4 linked regions of the Homo sapiens genome follow. The protein of the gene in region 1 interacts with the protein of each later gene in a pairwise test. Each region holds a gene or a part of one and is shown on either strand. Other genes may lie near its edges. The genes, in order: HSD3B1, NEK7, GSN and DLST.

Evidence for each region.
Region 2: the proteins of HSD3B1 (region 1) and NEK7 interact in binary tests that used the Homo sapiens proteins (3 or more experiments, as listed by UniProt).
Region 3: the proteins of HSD3B1 (region 1) and GSN interact in binary tests that used the Homo sapiens proteins (3 or more experiments, as listed by UniProt).
Region 4: the proteins of HSD3B1 (region 1) and DLST interact in binary tests that used the Homo sapiens proteins (3 or more experiments, as listed by UniProt).

What each region holds. Positions count from the first base shown.
Region 1 is NC_000001.11:119,502,592-119,510,214, forward strand, and holds the start of HSD3B1 (3 beta-hydroxysteroid dehydrogenase/Delta 5-->4-isomerase type 1), read left to right. Parts: upstream 1-4,618; 5' UTR 4,619-4,671; intron 4,672-4,800; 5' UTR 4,801-4,885; coding exon 4,886-5,030; intron 5,031-7,623. UniProt on the Homo sapiens protein: A bifunctional enzyme responsible for the oxidation and isomerization of 3beta-hydroxy-Delta(5)-steroid precursors to 3-oxo-Delta(4)-steroids, an essential step in steroid hormone biosynthesis.
Region 2 is NC_000001.11:198,292,986-198,300,011, reverse strand, and holds part of NEK7 (serine/threonine-protein kinase Nek7), read right to left. Parts: coding exon 6,973-7,026; intron 2,886-6,972; coding exon 2,772-2,885; intron 1-2,771. UniProt on the Homo sapiens protein: Protein kinase which plays an important role in mitotic cell cycle progression. Required for microtubule nucleation activity of the centrosome, robust mitotic spindle formation and cytokinesis.
Region 3 is NC_000009.12:121,271,157-121,278,182, reverse strand, and holds part of GSN (gelsolin), read right to left. Parts: intron 6,374-7,026; exon of another isoform or gene 6,320-6,373; intron 1-6,319. UniProt on the Homo sapiens protein: Calcium-regulated, actin-modulating protein that binds to the plus (or barbed) ends of actin monomers or filaments, preventing monomer exchange (end-blocking or capping).
Region 4 is NC_000014.9:74,884,909-74,891,934, reverse strand, and holds part of DLST (dihydrolipoyllysine-residue succinyltransferase component of 2-oxoglutarate dehydrogenase complex, mitochondrial isoform 1 precursor), read right to left. Parts: intron 6,350-7,026; coding exon 6,301-6,349; intron 2,841-6,300; coding exon 2,788-2,840; intron 2,661-2,787; coding exon 2,586-2,660; intron 2,039-2,585; coding exon 1,983-2,038; intron 880-1,982; coding exon 768-879; coding exon of another isoform or gene 709-767; exon of another isoform or gene 1-708. UniProt on the Homo sapiens protein: Dihydrolipoamide succinyltransferase (E2) component of the 2-oxoglutarate dehydrogenase complex. The 2-oxoglutarate dehydrogenase complex catalyzes the overall conversion of 2-oxoglutarate to succinyl-CoA and CO(2).

The sequences.
Region 1 (7,623 bases):
GCTAGCCATGTGTAGAAAGCTGAAACTGGATTCCTTCCTTACACCTTATATGAAAATTAATTCAAGATGGGTTAAAGACTTACATGTTAGACCTAAAACCATAAAAACCCTAGAAGAAAACTTAGGCAATACCATTCAGGACATAGGCATGGGCAAGGACTTCATGTCTAAAACACCAAAAGCAATGGCAACAAAAGCCAGAATTGACAAATGGGATCTACTGAAACTAAAGAGCTTCTGCACAGCAGGAGAAACTACCATCAGAGTGAACAGGCAACCTACAAAATGGGAGAAAATTTTCACAACCTCCTCATCTGACAAAGGGCTAATATCCAGAATCTACAATGAACCCAGACAAATTTACAAGAAAAAAACAAACAACCCCATAAAAAAGTGGGCAAAGGATATGAACAGACACTTCTCAAAAGAAGACATTTATGCAGCCAAAAAACACATGAAAAAATGCTCATCATCACTGGCCATCAGAGAAATGCAAATCAAAAGCACAATGAGACACCATCTCACACCAGTTAGAATGGCAATCATTAAAAAGTCAGGAAACAACAAGTGCTGGAGAGGATGTGGAGAAATAGGAACACTTTTACAATGTTGGTGGGACTGTAAACTAGTTCAACCATTGTGGAAGTCAGTGTGGTGATTTCTCAGGGATCTAGAACTGGAAATACCATTTGACCCAGCCATCCCATTACTGGGTATATACCCAAAGGATTATAAATCATGCTGCTATAAAGACACATGCACACGTATGTTTATTGTGGCACTATTCACAATAGCAAAGACTTGGAACCAACCCAAATGTCCAACAATGATAGACTGGATTAAGAAAATGTGGCACATATACGCCATGGAATACTATGCAGCCATAAAAAATGATGAGTTCATGTCCTTTGTAGGGACGTGGATGAAGCTGGAAACCATCATTCTCAGCAAACTATTGCAAGGACAAAAAACCAAACACCGCATGTTCTCACTCATAGGTGGGAATTGAACAATGAGAACACATGGACACAGGAAGGGGAACATCACACTCCGGGGACAGTTGTGGGGTGGGGGGAGGGGGGAGGGATAGCATTTGGAGATATACCTAATGCTAAATGCCGAATTAATGGGTGTAGCACATCAACATGTCACATGTACCTGCACATTGTGTACATGTACCCTAAAACTTAAAGTATAATAATAATAAAATAAATAAATAAATAAACAATTGAAAGAAGTGAAAAACAATGATGTGAAAAATTGAACTACTCTTGCAGTGTTGATGGGACATGCAGCCACATTGGAAAACAGATTGCCAGTTCCTTAAAATGTTAAATATACATTTACCTTATGATCTAGCACTTTCACTCCTAGCTGTCTACCCCAAAGAAACAGAAACCTATGTCCACACAACACATGAATGTGAATATTCATAGCAGCTTTATCCATAATAGTCCATAAAGTGGAAACACATCAAATATCGATCAATTGATGAATGAATAAACAAATGGGAGCCATCCATACAATTTAATAGGGTTTGGCACCTAAAAGGAGTAAAATATTGATACGTGCTACAACATAGATGAACCACAAAAGAACATTAAGCTGGCCAGGTGTGGTGACTCACACCTGTAATCCCAGCACTTTGGGAGGCCAAGGTGGGTGGATCATTTGGGGTCAAAAGTTTAGATCAGCCTGGCCAACATGATGAAATCCCGCCTCTACTAAAAATACAAAAATTACCCAGGCATGGTGGCAGGTGCCTGGAGGCTGAGGCAGGAGAATCACTTGAACCCGGAAGTGGAGGTTGAAGTGAGCCAACATCGCACCACTGCACTCCAGCCTGGGCAACAGAGCAAGACTCTGTCTCAAAAAAAAAAAAAAGTATATTAAGCTAAGTGAAAGAATAGAAATACAAAGACCAAATATTCTATGATTCCATTTATATAATGTCTAGAAAAGGCAAATCTGTAAAGTCAGTGAGTCAATTAAAGGTTGCCTTGAGCTGTGAGTAAGAGTAAGGAATGGTGACTGATGAGCACGAGGGATTTCTTAGGAATGATAGAAATGTTGGAAAACAGGATTACAGTGATGGTCCACACAAGTATAAAATTTTACTAAAAATAATTGAACTGTACACTTAAAACAAGCAAATGTGATGTCAATTATACCTCAGTAAACCTATTTAAAAATAAAAGAAAGTTGGTAGTATGGTTCCCAATCACTCTGGACCTTTGTTTTATTTCTCCCTTTCTTTAGGGCTTATATTTATTGCTTCCACTCAGAGACTCCAAGACACATGAGCTGAAATCTACGAGCCTCCAGAACGTTCAACAGCTGAAAGAAAGTCCAGCCCCACACTGAAGGCGATGGGGGATCTTTAAGGTGCTCTCCAGCACTGCTACAGCAGGCAAAGGCATGCGATGCACCTGGGTAGTTTCAGATAGTACTCCACAAGTCTCAGCAAGACCCAGGGCCTGTAAATAGTTCTGATAGTTTCAGAGAACAAGCTGCTACATCTTGTAGCACAAGGCCAACCTTTCCTAGGCAAGTGGTTTTGAAGCATTGGTAGTGAGGTCCAAAGTAGAAGATGAATGTCTACAACATGGAGGAGGGCAAGACCCAGAGTGGGGTGTCAAACTAAATCATTTGTAGAGTATTACTTTCAACAACTGCAGAAAGCATTCTTTTCAAGTGCTTATGGCATGTTCACCAATGTAGACCATATGCTGGACCATAAAACAAATCTCACTAAATATTCAAGAATCAAAATCATACAGTGCATATGCTCTGGCCACAGTAGTATTTAATTAGAAATCCATAACAATGAGATATCTAGAAAATCCTCACTTTTAGAAAACAAGCAACACACTTCTGAATAACACTTGGGTCAGAGAAGAAACCACAAGACAAAACTTTAAATATTATTAACTGAATGATGATAACCCAATACATCAAAATGTTGGGTACAGCTCACACAGTGCTTAAAGAGAAATTTACAACTTTTAATGCCTATAGTGGAAATAGGAAAGGAGTAAAGAAAAACAATTTTCTATGCTTTTATTATCAGGATCCTGAAAAACGGGGCTGGGTGCAGTGGCTCACGCCTGTAATCCCAGCACTTTGGGAGGCTGAGGCGTGCAGATCACAAAGTCAGGAGTTTGATACCAGCTGGTCAACATGATGAAACCCCACCTCTACTGAAAATACAAAAATTAGCCCGGTGCAGTGGCGGGCACCTGTAATCCCAGCTACTTCGGAGGCTGAGGTGGGAGAATTGCTTGAACCCGGGAGGCAGAGGTTGCAGTGAGCTGAGATGGTGCCCCTGCACTTCAGCCTGGGTGACAGAGCAAGACTCCATCTCAAAAAAAAAAAAAAAAAATGTGAAAAACGAGTGAAAAAAAAAAACAAAATTAATAAATGTAAGCCAATAATAAAAATAATGAAAATCATGAAATAGAAAAATAAACAACAGAGACAATCAACGGTCAATTTTTCTGTACTCCCTGCACAAAACTTCATTTCAAAATAATTTTATATTTAAATATATATCCAGAACCACAGAGATCTTAGAAGAAAAAATTAGAGAAATATAGAAATAAAATGAGAACTGTGGGAATAAAAATCAGGAAGTAGTTGCCTATGAGGTAGATTGGGGGAAGGTCAGGGAATTAACAGGGAACAGGCAGAAAACAACTTTCTGGAGTGACGGAAATGGTCTATATCTTTTTTGGGGTGCTACTTACATGGGCATATATAACTGTCAAGTTCCACTGAACTGAACACTGAAGACCTGGGCATTTTAATGCATGTAAATTATATTTCAATTTTTTTGAGTAAAGTGTCTTGGGAAGCTTATGGCGGTGATATTTGGGCAGTTCTGGGGCATAGGCTTCAGAAGCATTCACAGTATGTCCAGTTCAAGAATTTGCTGAGAATCGTTTTGCAGCCAAAAATATGGATAAGTTCGAACACCTATGATAAGAGTCATTGGGGCATACAACCACAAATCCCCACTCTTGTGATACAGGCCATATCATTAAGTGGTTATCACCAGATAGCTTTCCTTCAATGATGTTGTTCATCTAGGAACCCAGGGCTCTCCAGGGGCAAATGACCATTGAGGTTTCAGATATATTGGGTAGGAAAGAAAGTCACCTCACATAAAACTAAGTGATTGGAGCTGTCACCATTGCAAATTTCTAAATTTTGTAAGACAGCAGCAACATTTCAAATGATAGTCTGAGAGAGGAGATAATGGGCTTACATGGATTTCCCTCCAGATGGATTTACTGAACAAGGGCACAATTCAAATTGCACTTGCAGATTTCTCCTGGTCTAGTTTAAGTTCACAGATTGTGGATCCCAGACAGCTGGTATCAACTGACTAGTGTCCTGTTAAGGCTAAACCCAAGACTCTTTGCCACACTGCAGCATTAGGATGGGACTTCTCTTCCTGTTCCTGGGAAGAATTAGAGATGTAACCCAAAGGTCACTATTTTTCTGAGATAAGGATCCCATAGGAGGAGAGAGCAATGAGTACATGGCCAGAGATCAAAGTGATAAGGGTTGGGCCAGAAGCCACAGTGCATAAAGCTTCAGACTTGCCACAGGAAATGAGGTGAGAAGTACGTCCACTCTTCTGTCCAGCTTTTAACAATCTAACTAATGGTTAGAGATTTTTCATTTTCTTTCAGCTACTCCTGCAGTGGTGGGGACACAGAATGTTTGCAAAAAAAATGGGGTGGAGGAAAATGAGGCATCTGTGTGAGTATATAACCATTTGACATCTCTTTTTAGCCCTCTCCAGGGTCACCCTAGAATCAGATCTGCTCCCCAGCATCTTCTGTTTCCTGGTGAGTGATTCCTGCTACTTTGGATGGCCATGACGGGCTGGAGCTGCCTTGTGACAGGAGCAGGAGGGTTTCTGGGACAGAGGATCATCCGCCTCTTGGTGAAGGAGAAGGAGCTGAAGGAGATCAGGGTCTTGGACAAGGCCTTCGGACCAGAATTGAGAGAGGAATTTTCTAGTAAGTAAACTTGGGTCATGGGTGTGTGGTTCCATCTTAAACACTGCATGTATGTGGGGGGAGATGGACCTTGTCTAGCAAGTTATTGAAATTTGTAGCCAAATCTAAGCCAATCTCACATCCAAAGTCATCAAGAAATAAATATTAAATAGTATAAAATGGCATAGTATGAAAGATACTGGGTGGGATTTCCAGAGACTAGATTCTGGCCCTGACCCAGAACTTGAGAAGCAGCCACCTCAGCCTCCAGGCCTCTTTTCTTCTCATCTAGAAAATCCCACATCAGTTCTTTGTCTTGTCTGCAACTCTTTTATGTTCTGAAGCTTTTGTCTTGGCAATTGCTGTACAACATTCATAAAGGACACTATTACCCTGGAGACCTCACCAATGGGTCATTGTCTCTCTAGAACGTGCCAGGCTGTGTTTTGTTTTGCAGCTTCCTTAGTATCCTTTGTGAGGGCAAAATAAAAGGAAGTTAAGGTAAAGATGAGTGTATAAGTGGGTGTGTGTGACAGAGAGAGAGGAAAACAATAAGGGGGAGAGAGAGTCGGGGAGAGAGAGTCGGGGAGAGAGACTCAGAGAGAGAGACAATGAGAAAGACAGAGAAATAATGAAAAATATATAGTGAGAGAGAGAGCATCAGTGAGAGAATGTGTGTGCACAGTGCACAGCACAGAGCAGAGACAGAGTAAGAGGCAGTATAAGGCCAGACATGCCTCATTTAGATTTTGCATATATGGCTTTTTTTTAAAAAAAAAAAAACAAAACATTTACCTCTGTTGCTCATCATCAAAAAGAAATTGACTGCAGAATTTTCTGTGGCAACTCCTTGTACAAATGGCCCCAAGAGGCAGGTAGAAAAGGCATCACATCCAACAGGACAATGAACGCATCAAGGTCCGGAATCACAAAGCAACATGCTAAGGCCATCTGATTGATGCGTAGCAGAGCTCAGACCAGAGCTTTATCCATAGGCTATTTCACCTGGCCCCAGAGCTGATGCTTGGCAAAGTGGATCTTCAGTCTCTCCCTTTGCTCCTTGGTGTGCCCCAAAACAATTCCCTGTCCTCCTCCCCAACCCAGGGGATTTGGGGGACTGTGTGTCTACATGTGGGCTCTGGCTGCCCAGAGGGTCCTGCCCTGCCCACAGAGAATCCCCCACTTGACAGCACTCAGGGACCACACCCAACACTCTACTTTTGCTCTTCTCTGACCTCTTGAAATGTTCGATTTCTTCCACCCTCTGTTTTAATGTTGTCTTTGATAAACAAATATGAAATGCTTATAATCCTTGCCTGTGTCTCAGCAATATTTGCAATTTAACATCTGAAGCCAGAAAAAAGCAATGCTCAGCCTAGAGGTATTGTTCCCCTATGGTAAAAATGCAGATCATATAATAGACAGGCAGGGATCTGTATGAAGATAAAAACAGAGAAAGCATTCAGTGTTCTTTTTGTGCCAGGCACTTGGCCAAAGGTTTGCCAACTCATTTGCTCCTCATAACAACCCTATGAGATCGGTAATATTATCCTCCTTTTTTAAAGATGAGGAGATAGAAACAGAGAGGTTAGTTAACTTTTTGAAGGTCCCACAGTTAGCATATGGCAAAGCTAGATTTGAACCCAGACAGACTAGTGCAGCATCTGTGCTCTTAAGCAGTAGTTTGTCTTACAGCTCCTTTAGGCCTTCCTCTAGCCCAACTTACACCATAAAAGCAACTCCATTTAGTCTACATAAAACACTTGCCAAGTCTACAGTGCCTTGGAGAAGAAGGGAGCCATGACTTCATCAACAAAGTACCTTTTCCTAGTCCCTCTAGATCCCTGGGAACTCACTGGGGAAGAGTCCTTTTCTCTCAGCTTTGGACTTCTTCCACTTTGACACTCCTTTGAGCCAGTCTGTCTGAAGTGGCAGCAAAGAAGAAGCAGAGGAAGGCAGCAGGAAGGGCAGAGGTGGAACTAGAACCAGAGAACATCCCACTCTCAGGCTGTTACCCACATCACCACCAGCAGCCTCTTCCCTGACTCCCCCACTCCAGGACCTTCTTGGAGTTGCCTGACAACGGGAAGAGGTTGGGAGTAGACAAAACATGGCAGAGGCATCAGGAGAGCAAGTGGTCCTGCTTGTACCCCAGGAAGGAATTTCTCCAGCTTCGAATTTTTCACTCTGAATTTTGCTCTCACTGGTCTTTGGTCTTTGTTGCCAATTTCAGTTAAACTGGCTTATTCTTTGGAAAAGAATGATATTAAACAACAGAAAAGTTGATATTAAACAGCCAGTCCTGCACCTGGTGTACAGGGTACAAGCTTGGAGGCAGGGTGGGCGTGTTTAAGCCTTCACTAGAAACGTGACCTTAGATCTGTCCCTTAACCTCTCTGAGACTCAGTTTCCTCACTGATAAAGTGGGACTCAGAATACCTACCTCATGAGATAGCTGTAAAAAGAAATAAATATCCTGTAAGTTGCATACAGATGATAAAGCACAAACAAGTGTAGAGTATTTATCCAAGCTCCATGTAGCATGGTGTTCATTTTGTGGGCTAATTCCAGGTGACAACCTTACTGGCAGCGTCACTTCCTGTGGATTTCAGAG
Region 2 (7,026 bases), about 79 Mb from region 1:
TCCAGAACCCTAATTATTTGTACACACTAAGACTCACATAATTCAAAAGAAAAGATTTGACATTCAGGCTTATTTTTCTAAAACTTCTCATTTTTTGTTTTAATGCTTAATTGTTATGTATGTTTTAGAATATAAGATAGGAAATTAAAAGAAAAATCCCAAGCTTTTAAACTCTAGGTTCTTAGATAGAATGACTATATCTAGAAATAAATTGTGTAGGGTTCCTGAGGATTCCTATCAACTGAGGCTGACTGGCAGGTATGGCTAGTATTCTCATGAAATCCTCCCTTAAAATCTTGTTTGGGCAGTAACCTTAAAAATTTGGCAGTAGCTACACAAATTTGGTAAGCTCATAAATACATACCTGATAAGTTGATTTGCTTAAATTTTTTTATTTTTCAAATAGTTACACACTCTGTTATCATTGTAGCTATAAAATTAACAAAATAAACTGTCTTTTAATTAAAAGTTCACTGTTGAAAAACTCTGTACTTCACTTTTTATTAGTTCCTGTATTTTGCCATACTAACAAATTAAATGATATTCTAGATTTTTAAAAGATCTAAAAAGCCTACTTTACTTAAAAAATTTAAGACATTATAGCACTACCAAATTTGGGATTTTTGGCTACCATGAATTCTGAATAATTATTTTACAAATTGAGTTCCTGCTTAAGGAGAGAAAATATTTATTAGCACATCTGCATTTCAAAGCTCTTGTTTTGAGAACTCTTCTACATAACTAAATAGATTAAAGTAACATTGTTATACAGTCCGCATATTTTTATATTCATTTCTTTAGTAAGAATTATTTTCCACATTTACCTAGAAACTACAGCTTTCTATTTCATCAGGGAATGACAACACATTTTACCAATACGAGGAATCACATTTTTTTGGAAAGTACACCATATAATGTGTTTTGCTTTACAGCTCTTTTCGAAACTGGTAACTATATAGAGTGAAGTAAAAAGTGGAATCTATTTTCCTTTCCCAACTCTAAGACCTTCTATCTGGGCCAGACTTTGATATTTGCCCCTTGGCTGAGAATCCGCATATCCAACTTCACACTTAGCTGCAGTGAAGTAGCCCTGCAGGCAGGCCGACTTCAACGAACCACTAGTGGTATCATCATTAAAATCCTGCTGAAGGTCACCATGGTAACCGCCTGCTGAGGCTTCACTGCTGCACTCGGCATCTCCTAATCAGCTACCATGTGAAATGCAAATTCAGACAGTCTGAAAATTAGTCAAGAAGAATAGGGGATGAGGATGCAGATATGTGAAATATTCATGCGCTTCATGGAAAAAAGAAGACAGCATGAATGACACAACAAAGAAAGGCCCCTGACATTCTTGCTATCATTTTGCATTATTGTTCACACCCCACTGTATTTCCAGGCCTATAGTTCTGAAGTTGGTTTTGTGAAATGCCATATTTATAGTCTATACCCAAAATAGTAATTAAAAATGGCTAACATAATAGTATTAACATCAAATAAAGATAATACTTTTAAATTATCATCACTGCTCTGTAACAGTTTATTCTAATTACCTGAATACAAATGCTATGCAGAAAAAAACAGGCATCACTGATTATCAGTATCAAAACTACCAGAAGAAAAAGTGCCTATTATATTCTAGGAACACAAATGCTTTACATGTGGTGAAAATTCTTTAGAGATATTTATTATTCAAGTTACACGAACTCAAATTTCCTTACATAATACTAAGACCCTATGCTATTCGTTTCACAATAGAAAGACTGACATGATTACCTAATAAGTGAACATTATAATTGTTTTATATTTTTCCTTTTCTCCTTTCCATTTTCCTGAGGCAAAAAATCTGTTGCTCATGAGAAGGTGCGATGTCCTAACTCAACACACTATTTTCTCTGGGTAGGTCCCTGATGAGTATTCCATAAAGAGCTAATATGAAACATTTTAGTTGACCTGAGATACTGCTATTCTGCATACATCCTCCTTAAATATTCGTAAAATGATGATACGTTAGGCTAAAATGGGAGATGTTTTGTTCAATGAAAGACTGGACATAGGGTAGAGCCAAAACAACTCACTTCAATGGGTTACCAAAGCAAGCAAGCAAGCATTCAGACTCAGATCTTAATAAGGTAGCCTTCTAAGATTTTCAGCCACAACTAACACACTTTTTAAACATGTCTACAATGATAACCTCGAAACATTTCCCCAGTAGAATCTGAGTATAGCAGTGAGGTGATGATAGGACAGGTATTGTCAAAGGAGAGAAGGTAAAGCTTAAATAATAAGGCTCAGAGATATGTAGTTAAGAGATGCGTGTTTCGAGTTTTGGAAAACATGGACGAAAGGGAAGTTCTGCCAAAATAGAAAATTACAACTGTGTGCTGGTCTGGTCTGGGACTGTGAGAATAAGGAGTTAGCCCTGTTAGGAAGGGCCATCAGACATGATGATTAACTAGAGCCTAAGTATGAGCATTAATTCTGCCCTTTGCACGATTCAGTACACTGTAGAGTCAGCTACTATTCTTATCACACCTAGAAAGTGGCCAATTTTACACCACATGCTGTGTTGTGTTGCACTACACATTATCAATTGCAGAGTCAACTCTTTAGACAGCAAGTCTCCAAGAGAATGAAAACAGAATTAAAAAGTGCTAGTTCTGCTACCTATACCATTCATTTTCATTTTTGGATAAAGTAAAATTTCTTGGTAAAATAAAAATGTTAGCAAAATGGACAACAGAAGAACATGTGGGCTGAAAATGACTTACTTCTTCTGAATAGTGATCTGAAGGAAGAGGTGGGTAGTCACACTGTTCTATCTTCTTACACAGTGAGTATAAATTCATTTTGTCACCATAGAAAGGACTTTGTAATGCAGCCATCTGTAAAATGCCCCCAATGAAACTGATATAGTTAGATGGTAACTTAAAAGGTGATTTCATCAAGTATATTATACGGGGGTAGAAAATAATCACAAATATTTTAAATAGAGATACCTGGGCATTTTGATTTTTATGAATATCCCCTTCTGAGGAAATTTATTAAGAGTTAAAAATCTTACTGCAACTTTTGGTTATTTTTTTTCCAACATTTAAAATTCCCTAAAATAGAGAATTAGCATATTTCTTTATATACAAATGCAACATAAAACAATAAAGAAAAATAACACATAATTTAAAAACTCTTTGTACCTATAATGACACAAAAACAACTACTATATCTCACAACAAAACAGTCATCACAAGGTGTAGCTCAACCATACAGAACAAACATGAAACTGAAGTTAAAACTGAATTATAATCTAGCATAGGGAAGAGAATGCAGAGCATTTTCTCTTGCATAATAGTTTCTGAAGATAAAGGTTATTCTGAGAAAAAGCAGTCTTTTCAATTTAAATGCAATAACTGATCCCCAAATAGTTTACAATGAATTAGAACTCTTTTGATAATGTCTCAAAAACATTAAATTAAATATGTTCAAAAGCTCTATGAGTCATAGCTGTAATTCAAGGCTTCCAAATGAGATTTTTATGCAGAAAAACACGACCCAAAGGATGAACAACTTTAAAAAAGACATTATCGAATTTAAATTTATTTTAAGACAAGGTTCTAACTTGACATTTAAAGTGCAAGCAAGTACTGTGGTAAGCAGTGTTACAAACTAAAAATTCAATTTAAAATGTTCGCATCCTGTTCAAAACCTTCTAAATCTTTGAACCACAGCAGCAAGAATACAACACGGAGTGCCAGGCTGCCCCAAAGTCAGTCACCCTTTTCTACATGTGCTAATAAGTTTGATTTTGGAAGGACAATGTGTACATTCCCCAGACAGGCAGAGTGTGTGTGAAACACGCTAGTCCATGCTGTGCTACTCAGTGAGCGTCAGTGGGGACAGGACAAGCTGAAAATGGCTCTCATCTGTCTTCTGTGCTCCAGACAGAGCTTTAACTCCTTCAGAGCCTTGATGAGAAGGGGATGGGATTGGAAATCAAAACTGGAAAGTAGCTCAACACATTTTTATCTTGCCTATGTTTTACATAAAACGTGCACACAACTATATAGAAGTACCTTAGGAAGAGTTGTTTCACATGACGAGAAAAAAGTTAAAAACAATCTGAATGCCCCTAATCATATAAAACACTCTGAGAGGAAATTTCTAAAAGAACCACAATAATAATAATAATAATAATAATAATAATAATAGTGGTTTTTGTTTTAAATGCAAGGACACTTTAAGATCTTACCTTAAAAATACACTGTATATATAAACTATAGTCTCTCCGTGTTTGCAAAACCTTAAGTAAATGTACATATATTCATTATCATATTCTAGGCGTTCATTATAGTCCTTTTTCTCAGTACTGCAGAGTGTTAAAAAAAAAAAAAATCTGAATGTCCCCTAAGGAGTTAAACAGGAATAGTATATTTTCATGCATCTCCTGCTTTGACAGATGAAAAATGTCAACTGTCCTGTTTTTATTTTCAAGCTTTTGCACTATTCATCTGGTTCATTAGTGCATCTCGATGCTGCCCCTGACAGCTGCTCGCCCTCTCCTCCCAGCAGCTGAATTTTTCAGGCTAATTTGATCCTCCACACTGAGACGATCGCTAGAATGATTGACTTACTCCCTGACCTCCAGGGTCTGACTTTCCTGATTAGTATTCTGGGGGTGTCGGAGGGACGAAAGCCCACTGTCTGTCTTCGGGGCTGGTGGCAGCTCTCTTTTTTTTTGAACTGTAAGCCACCAACCTACAACCCTGTAAGGATGCAATTGCTGCGCTGAACAATAAAGGAAATGTGTAAAACCTACTTTTCCATGTAAAGGTCCGTGTAGCAAAAGCACAGCATCTTGATTTTAATTAGTAAAGTCTACTTTGTTGCATATCAATTAAAACTGTACTGCTAGTTTTTTTTTTTTTTTGAGGTTTCAGGAATATTTGAAAGTCTAATTTTCTGAGTTTAAAATACATTTTCAAAAAAGGCTTCCTACGTCTTCATTGTTAATAGTAATTTTTTAGTGGGTACAATACAAAATACGTGATGTTATGACCAATTTTTAAAAGCCAAACTGTTAGCTATTTCTATTAACAGTACATTGAAACACAACTGAAAGGAAATAGAACATAAATTTAAATTAAAGCTTTAGAAAAATTCTAGTTCTTCTAAAAGATTTGCATGGAGAAATCAAGAAAATGCGTTGAGATGAAAACTAACATTAGCATGATAATACTTTAACTCAAAATCATCCACAATACATATAACTCATGGATGTAGAAATGTCCAAAGATGTTATTTTTATTTTTGTGGCATTTTAAGTCCATACAAAAATGGGACACCGTCTCTCAAAGGCAAATTCAAAATGTGATAAATTATTTCAGTTTTGACATGAGTATGCTAAATCTAAAAGAATTATGCAAACTTCCTCTCAAAAACCACTTACTACCTCAACAGAACTTTTTCTTTTTTATTGCTAAATTTAATCTAGTTATTGGAAACCAATTTGCTGTTTACTTTTAGGGATTTGAAGAGAATATGTTGCTTTGATAATATTAGACTATGGCCTAAAGGAATCTAAGGTTAACTAAACAAATATAAAATATTTTAAATGTACAGAGTGACTAACTTTTAAACATTATAGTAACAATATAAACAATCCAGTTCTTTTTAGGATTGTACCAAATTATTAACAAAATATAACACAGTGAGCGTAATTTCTTGTAATCTCGTGCACATATAAAAACATGTTTTGTTACATTACTGACTCATAATTTTTCATAACAAAAATTATCCAAAGTATGAGTTTATTTAAGAATATTTAAAAATCCTTTCATTTTAAGTAGTTGTTAGTCACTTTAGTAGGAAGGACAAAACAAATAATTTCAGGTTCCTTAAATTAAGGAAATTTGAATCTGCAATGAATAAAATAATAAAAGATCATGACATACATTTTTAAAGAGTCAAAAAACACCTCCTAATGCTCTACTTCCAAGTAATGGTGGTACAATTAAAATAGATGATTTCATCATATATTTCATTTAATTCTGGAGGACAAGAGACAGGAAATATATATAGTAGGAAATGCATTGGTTTCTATTTATCCTCTTTAGACTTCTCTCATATACACAGAGATATGAAAATGATTCCTACACAGGGATATGAAAATGCTTCCATGTATTACATTTCCTCACTTTATTAAAACCTACTTAGATATAGACTAATTTTTAATTAACAGCTTTGACTCGAAGCCTATATTCCTAGGAAAATTATCATTCAATTAAAAAAACAAAATTACAGAAGTCACTAGCTTGAGATACTTTTATACCAACACAGATGTAAAATGTGTTACTAACATGCTTTCTTTTATCCACCCAAATTATTACAGTGCAACATTTCTAGAGGACCTACCTACATGATTCCATCTTCCTTTGATAAATGATCACCAGTAGAACAAAAGAGAGAGTATTTCACTGAGCTTTACCAATACAAATTGTTACTCATGGAAACTAAATTGATAACCTAGAAGAACTATCTGTTTGCATACTATCCTTAATGCTAAATTACACCTGTGTAAAAGTGAAATAAAATATTGATAAAAATATTTACTATACTTTCATATATTAAATCCAATCCATTATGCCACTCCTGTAATGCATGGATCAAGATTTACAGATGTTCAAACGTATATTTTTACAAATGCAAGATATAGAGAAAGGCGTTATATTAACATAAAAGTTAATGCTTTAAAAATAAACTTCTCATCAAAAGAACACAATTTAAAAATATATTAGATGTGTAGGAATGTATAGTTATTAAATTCCATTATACAAAGTTATTAACCCAACGAAAATTCTTCACAATTAAAAAGGTGATTCTTAAACATCCAGAAAAAAGTAAGTATATACTATAAGGATAGAGGAAATATACTAAGTAAAACTGCATCAATATTTGGAATTTATCAACATTACCTACCTCATATAGTAGACAGCCAAGAGACCAGATGTCAGATTTGAAGTTGTATCCATT
Region 3 (7,026 bases), on another chromosome or scaffold:
GTGCTCAGGGTCACACAGCTAAGATGTCTGGGCAGTTCCCACCAACGCAGGCTGCCTCCCCTACGTCTTGACCTCACTATATTTCAAAGCTATAAGGCTGGGCCTCTTGCTGACTAGAAAAAAAAAAAAAAGAACATGCAAATCTTTGGGTACTCTAGATCATGGGTCAGCAAACTTTTTCTGTAAAAGGGCCAGACCGTAAATATTTTAGGCTCCATAGGCTACACACCCTCTCTGTTGCATATTCTTCCTTGTTTGTTTGTTATTGTTGTTTTTTAACAACACTTTAAAACTATAAAACCATTCTTAGCTCAGAGGCATACAAAAACAGACTGGGGCCTCCCCAGGACTGTAGTTTGCATCCATAAATACAGAAAGAATGTTTATAATCTCAAGTATAAAAACTTCTGGTGAAAGGGTTGATCAAATGCTAGCTGTATTTCTCCCCCTTCCAATGGCTTTCTACTGAGTCACTCTCTTTCCTAAAGAAGAACCTACTTTGCTACATAATTAAGCAGCAAAGTATTTTAAGGGCTGTTCAGATTCTAGAAACTCATAGCTGCAGATAAAATAGACAGATAAGTCAGATGTCAAAGACAAGACATTAAAAGATCTGGGCTCCAGGCTAGACCCTATTACTGTCACTGGGTCTTTAGCCCTGAACAAGGGACTTGCCTCTTAAGTCCCTTATCTCATAAGTATTGATTCTACACTAATAACAGATTGTTTTCAAATCTTGCAACTGAAAGTGTGATCCCTGGACCAGCTACATCAGCATCACTAGAAATGCAGAGCCTCAGGCCCCACCCCAGACTTGTGGAACCAGAATCTGCATTTTAACAAAAGCCCCAGGCGATCTTAGAATGCTCTAGAACATCTTTTTTGTCCAGCTGAAACACAGTTCATAAAATCTTTGTTAGCAATGAGGAGAGAAAGGGTCTAAAGACATCTTTCATGATGTCATGGTATTAAGTCTCTGACCTAACACATGTACCAGTGATTTCATAAAGCATTCCACTCTAGGACCAATTGACAGACCAAGATCTACCACTGGATCTTAAAATAAAACCTTAACCAGGTAGAAAGGAGACCTAGGGGAACAGGAAAATGTGTATTCCCCATATTATGGAGGGGTGGGGGCAGGGAATAGGTTAGAGAGAGAAATGACTTACCCAAGACCACACAACCAAGACAAACTAGGCGTATGACCACCACCAGGTTTCTTTCTTTCTTTTTTTTTTATTATACTTTAAGTTCTAGGGTACATGTGCACAACCTGCAGGTTTGTTACATATGTATACATGTGCCATGTTGGTGTGCTGCACTCATTAACTCGTCATTTACATTAGGTATATCTCCTAATACTATCCCTCCCCCCTCCTCCCACCCCACTACAGGACCCGACCACCACCAGGTTTCTTAATCTTCCTTAGTCAGGCCTTAGGTTTCATGAGAACTGAAATCATTTTGGTTTGGTAGAGCAGCAATCAGAGGGCTTGCTGTTGGCTTTGGGAAATTCACTTGCTCTCTCAGGGCACAAGTATCTGTAGCCATGAAGTGAGAGGGTAGAGCCAGGCGATTCCTAAAGCCCTGCTATAAAAGTCATGGTTTGGAAAGTTTTGAGATGAGGAGGCAGTCGGGGGGGTGCGCTATGCCAAGGGTCACCACAGTCACACCAAAGTCTCTGGGGGATGGGATCACAGAGCCAAGTCATTCGGTCCTTTGTGAGGAGGCTGAGGAGGGACCTGGCGTGGGCTCTAGCCATGCATCCCCTTGGGGCCACCTCAGCTGGTCACCACAGGCTGGCACGGATGCTAAGGATGTAGCCCATTTTACAGATGAGGAAAATAGGTCCTTGAGAGGGGCTAGGGCTTCTTACCAAAGCAAGGAATTCTTCCCTTCAACTGACAACAGTGCAAGGGTAGCCTGTATTAAGAAAACCTAACACATGAACACACAGATGTGTGCAAATGGTTGATTTGGGAATAATCAGGCTCTTTATAAATAGTGCATTATATTTTACCAACAGATTTGTTACAAAAAGGATTCATTCAGGGCTTTGATGGCAAGGCTCCCAATGCAATGCTTCTCACACTTGAATTCGCACACGAATTCCATGGGGATCTTGTGAAAATCCAGATTTGGATTCAGTAGACCCAAGGTGGGTAGGGTTGCCAGATAAAACATGAGATGCCCAGTTAAATCTAAATGTCAGAAAGACAATAAGATGTCTTGGTATAATTATGCCCCAAACATTCCAAGGGCCATACTCATGCTTAACTGGCACACTGTTTTTTATTTGCTAAATAAGGCAACCCTAAAGATGGAGTCTGAAATCCCACATTTCTGAAAAGCTCAAAGATGAAGCCTTAGTGCATTTAAAATGCAATTTAAATCTATGAAAACTATATTTTATGCAACCATGAATTTTATGGTCTCTTTTTTAAGACCACTGAACAGTCTAGGCAGGCATCTCCCACCTTCTAAAAGAGCATAGAAAGAATTCTGGCTGCCACTGGAACTGGGAACTTGCCTTCCAAGAGAAACAGGTACTGTGGTGGGAGGGGAGGTGGGAGGGGGATGGATACAGGCTAGCCCACAAAAGCCTGTTTTACCTCCGTTCTGAACGATACAGTTCCTTTGGACTACCAGTTCCTGAAGTGAAGCTCAGGACACCAAGAAACATGGCCGTTTCTTCTCTGAGTCCATGAAATGGGAAGGATCTGTCCCTACCTGCTTCCTTTCCAGGGCTCTTTGGAGTCAGATGAGATAATACAAATTCCCAGCATCCACATGATTGCACTGGCCAAGCATTGTGTTAGGTACTTTGTAGAATTCTGTGAAGTGGGTATTGAAGCCCTAACTGTATAGCTGAGAAAAATGAAACTCAGTGAGGTGATGTCCTCAAGGTCTTAGGGCAAGTGCAAAACATAAACCAGAAGGAGAACCAAGTTCTCTCCACTTCTTCGGCCTGGGATCTTAACTTGTTATGCTTTATTGCTGCTGAATTGTGCAAGTGTATTTGCCAAATGAATGAATGAAATGTAACGTTTCAGGAAAATGGTCGCTGTACTCTATTCTATAAAAGGACAGCTGAGCTTTTTATAACCAGCTTCAGATGCTCCTGAAGAATGCTGCCATTCTCACGGATGGCTGGTAGGAATAAGGACTACTGTAACCTTTATGAGCAGAAATTTGGCAAAATTTAGCATGACACAGATTATTTGCTTGGCCAAACTTTAGCCAGGCTTCTGAACCTTCTCCTAGGCCTACCTGTGCACTTCCTTGTAAAATCCAGTTTTAGCAAAAGAATCCTGCTAAGTCTGTTTAGCCAGAACCCCTCATCCTTGATATCTGATCAGGCTCCTCATCCTCCACCATGCCCCCACTGATGTTTGAATCACCCTGGTTTGTCTTCATCAATAATTTTGTTAGGTCGGTTTAGCAAGAATATCCCTTATTCCTGAGCTTCCTCTTAGTAATTTTCCATCCGCTGACCCCTACCCTGCTCTGCAGCTATCAATTCCCACTCGCCCATGCTGTATTAGGAGTTGAGCCCAAACTCTCTCCCTCACTGTAGGACCCTGTTGCAGTGGTCCCTATGCCCAAGGCAATGTTCCTGAATAAAGACTTCCTTACCGTGTTTTCACAAGTGTCACTGAATTTTTTTTTTAACAAGAAAAAGCTATAAAATGTGTCATTTTGACTCAGGAACTCCATTTCTAGGGCTCACTTCTAGGAAATAATAAAAGAAGAACACACAAAAAAAGTATGCACTAGGTTGTTCATTGCAGTATTGTTTATAAACTGCCTAAATGTTTCATAATTGAGGATTGTTAAGGGAACATGGTACAGGCACACCAAAGATAGAATAATAGTGAGTGATGAAAACTCGGGTGGGCATTTATTTCTACCATAACAAAAAAAAAGTAGGAGGCAAGACCCTTGTTTAAGGACTAAAGAGCCACTGACAATAACAGGGTACAGCCTAGTGCCCAGATCTTTTAATGTCTATATTCGATATCTGACTTATCTGTCGATTTCATCTGCTATGAGTTTCTAGAATCTGAACAGCTCTTGAAATACTTTGCTGCTTAATTATGGAGCAAAGTAGGGTCCTGTAGGAGAGAGAGACTCAGTAGAAAGCCATGGAAGGGGGAGAAATACAGCTAGCATTTGATCAACCTTTTCACCAGAAGTTTTTATACCCAAGATTATAAACATTATTCTCTCTGTATTTATGGATGCAAACTACAGCCCTGGGGAGCCCCAGTCTTGGTTCTTTGGGGGTGATCTTGGGCAAATCCTGTTTCTCTCAGCCTTTTTGTTAATAAATAAAAAGCATTATTTCATTTTTTAATCCCTAGGACTATTGGAATAAAAGATTTAAATTAGAATAAACATTTATCTACTTAGGTATAGTATGCTTTTAAAACTTTTAAAAATTAAATTTAAAAAGAATCCTTAATAACATGAGAAAAATACTTACGATATAATGTTGAGAAAAAACAGAAAGTCAGAACAGACAATTATAAATATAGGATAATTGTGTGGGGGTAAAAAAAAATGCACTGAAAATATCAGGAAGGAAGGGCACCCAGGTGTTGGCAGTGATTTTCTCTGGTTAGTTATGAACACTTCTTTTTTATATATATACTTTTTTATTTCCTAAATTTTCTATCACAAGTGTAATAGAAATAATAAGGGTGGGGGGAAAAGGTCCTTGGAGGTGGGGAGAAAAAAGTACATATGCCACCCACATCATCAACACACACCCAACAAGTTAACTAGTATTTACTTAGTACCCACCAAAACCCAGCTCAGCCACAGTCTCTGTAGCAGGGAAATTAAGGGCCAAGCCCCACCCTGAAGGCTCACATATGTAGAATATATATACTTTGCTTGGCAAATAAGCTTGGCTCTGATGATATTCTTATTGAGGTTGGAAAATAACAGGACTGTTTGCTTAGCCAGCTCAGCAGAATAAACGAATCCACTCCCACTGGTGCGACCCCTTCACTGGAGTTCCCTGCGAGGCTCCATGGCTTAAAGCCTTTCTGGATCACTCTTGGGAAGAGTCAATTTCAGGGATACTTTATAGCCCAGGAAGAAAACTGTTCTCATCCCTTAACCCAGGCACTGAATGCAAGAGGTGAAGAGGCTCCCCATGAGGCAGAGCAAGCAAGGGAGGAGGGAGGAGCAGGAGGGCCTGGGAAGGAACCTGACAGGCTGTGTGTGGGCCCTGGGGACCCCTGGGCAAAGGAGCTCACGTCTCCAGGCCTGAGTTTCCTCACTGGTAAAATGGGTCACATAATGACAACCCCAGGACTATTGTGAGACTCAAAGAAGAGAACGTAAGTCCTTTCATTTTTCTAAACTGAGCCTCAGTTTCCTCATCTGTAAAATGGAGTCACTATCTCTCCCCTCGTAGATCTGTTAAAAGATTAAAGCAGATAGTGAAAGCAAAAGGTGAACATACATAGTAAGTGTGTTACATATGGTGGCCCTTATTATTGTTGCTTGTAGAGCAGGGAATGGGATACATCAACAAATCCTAGGCCTCAACTCCCTTATCTGCAAAATGGGGCAATCAATTCAGTCCGAAAAGATTAAATTCAAGAACAGTAGCTGAATCACCAGTTGCACCACTGCGGGCTCACTTTGTGTCTCAGACATGCCGGACCCAAGTACATGTGGGGAGCACAAAGCCCTCCAACTCAGAGGCCATCAGAGCTGGGAAGGCTGACATTATGCTGTCCACCCTACAGTGCAGAATGGACACTGGGGCCCAGAGAAAGGCATGCATTAGCCCAAGTCACCCAGTACTTTGTCACTGGCAAAGCCAGGACCCAAGCCCAGGCCTTCAGCTGCCTACCCTTGCCCACAACACCCACTGCTTTTCTCTGCCCTATTCTTAAATTGCTGATGTGGTCCCAGGCAGGGCAGACGAGAGCAGGCATATGGCAGGGGAGGGACAGAGGGAAGGGGAAGCTGGCCAGCAGCAGGAACTGAGCCTGCCTGTGGTCTCCAACTTCACAAACCACATCAGGCTGAAATATGACACACGCTCACTCCGTTGAAAGCGAGGAGATATTTTTACTTAACATCCCCCGGCTGCCTAAACACTGGTCTCTTTTTTTCCCTTCCTCCCCAAAATGCATAACCCCTGGGACGTGCTTTTCTCTGCTTCTGCTGGCATTTTCTCAGGGAATAACCAAGGAGCAGGAGAGTGTCCAGTTTTCCTGGCTTCGCCAGATAGATTTCCAGAGCATAAGCTTGATTGATGAAAAGGGGGGACCAGTCCTGGCTGGGCTCTCACCTCACCACATGACCTTGCTGGGCAAGTCCTGTGTCCTTTTGGAGCCTGGATTCCCTGAAATGGAGGGGAGATTGACCTGCACTGAGGGTCCTGCGGATGGCACAGGAAAGCATGAGTTTACAAACAGCCCCGGGAGGCCCCTCCAGGCCTCTCTGCTGCAGGGCTGAGCTCTCCAAGCTCTGCACACCGACACCCACCCCTCATAAAAGCATAACAAACTCCCTTACCAGTTCTCCTAATACCAGGACTAGAAAGAATTTTCAAGAGAATGTTTAGTGCTGTCATTAATAGCTATGGCTCTGTCGTCAGACCTCTGGAATCCTTGCACCATCACCCAATAGCCACACAACCCGGGGCATGTTATTCAGCCTCGGACTCAGTTTCCTCATCTGTAAAAGAAGATACTAGTATCTACCTCAGAGGAATGGTTGCAAGGAATCAATAAAGTAATTAATGTTCCAGTGCTTGGTATATTAAAAGATAGCTTTTTTTGTCTTTTCTTTTTTTGTTTTGAGACAGTATTGTTCTGTCATCCAGGCTGGAGTGCAGTGGCGTGATTTCAGCTTACTGTAACCTCCGTCTCCAGGGTTTAAGCAATTCTCATACCTCAGCCTCCCAAGTAGCTAGGATTACAGGAGCATCCCAGCACGTATTTTCAGTAGAGACAGGGTTTCACCATGTTGACCAGGCTGGTCTCAAACTCCTGG
Region 4 (7,026 bases), on another chromosome or scaffold:
CAAACTTCTGCAACAGGAGGACTACCTTATTTCCCAGCCTTCTACCATACATGTTTTCTACTCTGAGCTTCTGGTCTTGCCTGACTAACCTCAATCATGCGGTCTATCTGCCTTATTAGTGTAACAGTGAAAAAGAAATAGACTTCTGTGACTCGTTGGTCTACGGGTACGATTCTCGCTTAGGAAAAAGAAATAGACTTTTTAGTGGTTATAAAATTTAACTAAGAGTCAGATAAAGTTATTAATCTCTAATCCTATCAGGTCCAGTACAAATTCGTTTCTCATTTCTTCCCAAAAGAAATACCAACCCTTCCTAGAGATATGAGAGAACAGATGTGAAAAGAAACAACACTGAATTCCCCATAAAAGACAATGAGCATTTCCTTTGAGCATTCTGTCAGTGCTCAAAAAGTTTTGAAGCATTTCAGATTTTGGATTTTCAGTTTTGGAGCATTTCAGATTTTGAATTTTCAGATTAGGTATGCTCAATCTGTATATCTATAAGAAAAGGTCCAGTTTCTCAGCTCCTGCTAAGAAACACCCATGGAAAGAACAGAGTATAAGGTTTATTTTTTAAAAAATACACTTTTCTTTTAGAATTTGACATTTGAAGTTCACACTATATATAAATTTACCCCTTATTCCCTCAACTAAGGGCAGCTGGAATGACAAGAGTCTTTGACATATCGGGGAATTAGCACATTATGCTCAGTCCCAATCCCAAGAGGGAACACTGGAGACCTTGACCACCAGGAGAACTTCTTTACCACCAGTTTTCCTGAGTGTGAAAAGTGGAGTGCCTCCTTCGACTTTTCCCCCATCAGGTACCAAAAGAGCTTCAATCACGCCATTTGCTGGTGATGGAACCTGCACAGATGTCTGGAAGAGGAAGACAGATGGAGGAAGTCCAAATGTTTATCCAGCATTAGAAAATTAGCTGTATAGAATCTCCAATGAAGCCAGGCACAGTGGCTCATGCCTGTAGTCCCAGCATATTGGGATGCCAAGGCAGGCGGATCACTTGAGGTCAGGAGTTCAAGACCAGCCTGGCCAACATGGTGAAACCCCATCTCTACTAAAAACTACAAAAATGTAATCCCAGCTACTTGGGAGGCTGAGGCACGAGAATCGCTTGAACCTGGCAGGTGGAGCCGATATCGTGCCACTGCACTCCAGCCTGGGTGATAGAGCGAAACGTCTCAAAACAACAACAACAACAGCGTATCTCCAGTGAGTAACAAGAGTTGCAACACAATATATAAGGCCTTGCACACAAACATCTAAGGCCATAATTTCAGAGCAAGGGTGATAACAAGTCATCGCTACTGTGAAGATTCACTTTCTGTCCTTTCTCAGAAACATTCAGGCAATATTCAGTTAATATGTTTCCAAGTGATACAGGAAAAAGTGGAAACAGCTTATTTACCCTCCCCACCCCCTCACCACACACTACAAGACTAAAGCTACTAAATGAAGTACATAGTACACACACAGCAAACAATTTAAAGTTAAATGCAGGTCAGGTGCGGTGGCTCATGCCTCTAATCCCAACACTTTGGGAGGCCAAGGCGGGCAGATCACCTGAGGTCAAGAGTTTGAGACCAGCCTGGCAACACCTGTCTCTACAAAAAATACAAAAATTAGCCCGGCGTTGTGGCATGCGCCTGTAAGCCCAGATACTAGGGAGGCTGAGGCAGGAGAATCGCTTGAACCCAGGAGGTGGAGGTTGCAGTGAGCTGAGATCAGGCCATTGCACTCCAGCCTGGGCAACAGAGCAAGTCTGTCTCAAAAAAAAAAAAAAAAAAAAAAAGTTAAATGTAAAAAGTTGTTTTTTTTTTAAATTGAACAAATCCAATAATTTTACAACTGAAGTTAGAGCTAGTTAAAAATTATCTCTAAACAATGGTTAAGTCCCTGTTTCTTTCATTAGGTTAACTAAGGGAAGCCCATGAAAAGCTGGTACGAATATAAGATAAGCCTACCTTGTCAGTTTCAATCTCACAAACCACTTCATCTTCTGCAACTGTGTCTCCAACAGCTGAAAAGACAATCAAAGGCTACAAGGCTACCTGTTAGCGGGGAGCCTCCAGTAGCCACAAAACCCATTTTGGCAGGTATGTTATAAGAACCCTTTCCTACAGGGCCAGCAGAAAGTACATATGTAAAGAAAACGGCAGAGCTATAAATTCTACAACTATCCTGAGGGGAGGGGAGAATTTTAGATAGCACTTAAACTTAAGAAGTGAGAGGAGCCAGGCGCAGTGGCTCACGCAGTGGCTCAGGCCTGTAATCCCAACACTTTGTGGCAGGCTGAGGTGGGCAGATCACCTGAGGTCAGGAGTTTGAGACCAGCCTGACCAACATGGTGAAACCCTGTCTCTACTAAAAATACAAAAAACTTAGCCAGGCATGGTGGTGGGCACCTGTAATCCCAGCTATTCGGGAGGCTGAGGCAGGAGAATCACTTGAACCTGGGAGGCAGAGGCTGCAGTGAGCCGAGATCATACCACTGCACTCCAGGCTGGGAACAGAGCAAGACTCTGTCTCAAAAAAAAAAAAAAAAAAAATAGGAAACTAAATCTTACCTTTCTCCCACCTGACATCTCCCTCTGTGACAGATTCTGCAAACGCTGGGGTTTTGACTGTAACCAAGTCATCCTCTAGGAAAAATGCAAAAAAGAAAATCATAAGTAGTTCATTTTTCCTTTTTAATATTTTTCTTTAATTAAACTCAATCAATTGTTGCTCTTCCCATAAAATTCCATTCCCAAGAAAGCAGGTACTTACTGCATACAGCTGTAGTTCTGAAAAAGCGAACACTGAAGACACTGTTGTTAATGCTACAAAAGAAACACACGTTAACTCCTTTTAACAGGCGAACCACTCACATTTTAGTCTAGTTAAGGCCCCATGGGTCACCTTCCCCTTAAACAGTGACTCTTGACCAGGGGTGTCCATCAGTGTCACTTGGGGAGGAACTTTTTCAAAGTTCACTTGTCTAGGCCTCTCCCCCAGGGATTCTGACTCAGCAGGTCTGGAGTAGAGCCTAACGACCCAGGTACCTTAAATGGTGAGCTCCCCAAGTATGCTCAGGCCCCTGTGCTGCAATGCAATGCCAACTCTCACAAAACAGACTTACATTTGGCTCTTTCAATAAAAAAATAAGCACCTTGGTCCTTTGCAGACCGAAATGACTTAGCTTCTTGATTTGGTTTTTTGTTTTTTAAGAGATAAGAGTCTTGCTCTGTCACCCAGGCTAGAGTGCAGTAGCATGATAATAGTTCACTGTAACCTCAAACTCCTGGATTTAAGGGATCCTCCCACCTCTGCCTCCCGGGTAGCTGGGACTACAGGCACATGCCACCCAGATAATTTTTTTAAATTACTTTTTGTAGACTATGGATTTCATTGCCCAGACGGGTCTCAAAGATCCTACCCAAAGTGCTGGGATTACAGGAGTGAGTCACCATGTCCAGCCAGGTCTCTTCCTTAACTAAATCCGAGATAGATTTACGGCCTGCCCAGGGTACAAGCCATTGTGCAAGGTATAATGGAATTTCTGCCCTCAAGATAACAGATTTAGATCAGATAAGGCAGCAAGATTAACAAGGTTAACTCGGAAGTAAAACAAGGTGTTATGCCAAAAAAAAAAAAAAAAAACCCAAAAACAAAAAAACCACACACAAACCCCATATGGTATCTCCTACTCGGTTCTCTTGCTAGAAAACAGCACATCAACACATTCTGGATTCATTCAAAACGAACCTCAAAGACCAAGGCGTTTACTGATATGGCCTTTACAGTAAATAATATAAACTGGAGAATCAGCTCACCCTGTATGCACAAAGCCATTAACAGTGGTTACCTCTGAGGGGTGAGAGATGTAGACATATATGGTATCTCTGGTTATGTGTTGCACACTTACACAATTTGGGAGAATGATTTGGATGGGGACTTTCACTTTTTACACTTCAGGATTGTCTGAATATTCCACAACAAGCATTTTTATAATAGAAAAGTAAAAGAGATTTAAGTTGTCTTTAGGTATTTTTACTTTTATAATGTCAAAATAACTATAAGGTCTATGTATAACCAAGAAAAAATGAAGATATTTAAAAACTACAAGAATACAAATTGTTCTACATATAGTTTGTAACCTTGTAAAGTACATGCCTATAGGCAAGAACTAACAGGTAACATGCAAGTGCAGAGGCTGCTCTGCAAGTCATCCAGGAACCCGGAGTGGTGGCCACCACTACCCAAGAGGCATTCGGGGGGCTAGAGGACAAGGATAAAAAAGTCTTCTCATGGACACCCTTTTTACTTTTTGAATTTTTAATCATGTAAATATAATACTATTAGTAAAAACATAAAACCAAAAATTGTTTTACAATAAAAGATTTATTAAATAAAGTGGGTACCTTATTCACAAAAAAGGCACAACACACACAAAGATACTGGATTAGGGTGACATGATTGGGGTGATCCCACACAAAGTTTACTTTTTCTTCATTATTTACTTTCAAATATTTAGTGTATTTATTGTAGAGAGTCATGATTGCCCCAATTTTCATTTGATTGCAGATGAGTAATACATTTTGAATCTCTAAATAACTAGATGTTCACTACAGAATATTAGAAATAGCAAAAAGAATACTTACAATGGGATCATACCACACAGTAGAAAATGAAATTATTTTGTAACCTGCTTTTTCCCACTTTTCATAGTGTGAACATGTGAACATGCTATAGTTTAGCCAATCCCTTGCTCTTTGCCATTTTAAGATAAATCTGATAATATTTATATTATCAGATATTAAATCTGAGATAAATATACCAGGAGTTCTTCAGTATAGATTCCTAGAGATGGAATTGCTAGATGAAAAGGAACACACAGGCCGGGCAGTGGCTCATGCTTGTAATCCCAGCACTTTGGGAGGCTGAGTCGGGCGGATCACCTGATGTCAGGAGTTTCAGAGACCAGCCTGGCCAACAAGATGAAACCCCGTCTCTACTAATACAAAAATCAGCCAGGTGTGGTAGCGTGCGCCTGTAATCCCAGCTACCCAGGAGGCTGAGGCAGGAGAATTGCTGGAACCCGAGAGGCAGAGGCTGCAGTGAGCCGAGATCGCGCCACTGCACTCCAGCCTGGGTGACAGAGCAAGACTCCATCTTGAAAAAAAGAAAAAAAGAAAAGGTACACACACTTCAAAGACTTATGACTATCAAACTGCCCTCCAAAATAACACCGGGATTCATATTTCTAGTACTGAGTGCAACATTTACTCAAATTTTAAAAAATCAGCCAGGCACCATAGCTCACGCCTGTATCCTCCACTTTGGGAGGCTAAGGCAAGTGGATGGATTGCTTGAGCCCAGGAGTTTGACACCAGCCCAGGTATCATGGCAAAACAACCCCATCTCTACAAAAAATACAAAAAACAACCGGGCATGGTGGCATGTGCCTGTAGTCTCAGCTACTCAGGAGGCTGAGGTGAAAGGATCTCTTGAGCCCAGGAGGCTGAGGATGCAGTGAGCCAAGATCAGGCTACCGCACTCCAGCCAAAGTGGCAGAGCAAGATCCTGTCTCAAAACAACAACAACAAAAACCCTCATTGTGATGTAGAGTAAGTAAGAAGCTCATCCGCTGACCTCTTCACTTTGAGGATTCTCCCTGTAGAGTAAGCAGCCTGACAGCTGCTGAACAGGTTACTAGAGAGCATTCTCTTAGCACCACCACAAAAACACTTGGAATGCAAAGCAGCATTTAAGCAACATTCATACGCAGAAGTTAATCTGAAACACACATGGGTAGCCTTTCTCCAAACTCTGCATTATGCAATAACAGCATTCCCTCCAAACTAGTCAGTCAGTCCCAGGACTCAACCAGTTTTATGCTTTTACTGTTTTTAAAAATGAGTAACTATGCTACTGAGAGGATGCTCTCAATCTCCACAATAAATGTAACCTCGAGCCTTTCAGCTGCACTTACATCCAAACAGAATATCTAGGAGCACCCTTCTATATCCCATAAAAAGAGGATTCCAACTTAACTTTCATTATAATCCAAACACCTGTGGAGAGTGGGCACACTCCCAGTCCAAAACCTGACACGGAGCTGATGCTCAAGGAACATCACATGGGAAAAGTGAACATTGAGGTTAGTCTAGGGACTCAACATAATCACCTCAATTTCTAGGTCTGGAGGCCAGTGAAGAAATCAGATGGTCAAATTTAGAACTTTATGTCTTTAAATAAATAACCCGTGGCCACATATCTGTACTCCCCAGTGATACTTACACAACCTTCCTGCTGTTAGGGTAACCTGGTCCCTGGCATAAGGAGACCCCTGCAAGAAACAAAATAACTCTTAACCAACAACTCTTATCTCACAAAGGATACATGCTGGGAATGGAAAAGGTCTGCTCACCCCCAACCCTGAGACAGAGCAGGATCAACGGCAACGGATATAATCTTTATCATAGAGTCCTGCTTCTCAAACTTTTCCAAAGTAGCCTTAGTGGCAGAGAGCAAATGGGTATGTGAGATCGAGTGGGTATGTGTTTGGCTGGGGAGGAAAGAGAAAAAATTTGATGGCACAGCCCAAAGTGATTATATAATCTCATCTACCTTAAAAAGCCAGAACTTTTCATTATTCCTGTATGTTTTCATAATAAAATGTCTCTACTCGCCAAGTCTTCAAATACAACTGAAGCTTGAGAAAGACATGGGATGGCTTATCCTGTGACTATACATAACCCAATTTGAGAAGCAAGGAGGATGTTTGGTCTGGGTTTGAAAAGATTGGGTTGGAAATCTTATCACCTGAATCCTAGTAGCAAAGACTTGGCTACTTTAGGCTCGGGGTCTCCAGTTTGTCCTAGAGCTGAGAAAATCATGTCCCCATCTTTCAGTTTATTGACTTCCCATGCCTTTCTGAAGTCTTCCACCCTGGTCACTCTCAACAAGGTGAGAGACCCTTTCTGCCCACCAGCTGTCCTTATCATAGTTAACTGCATTTCCCCA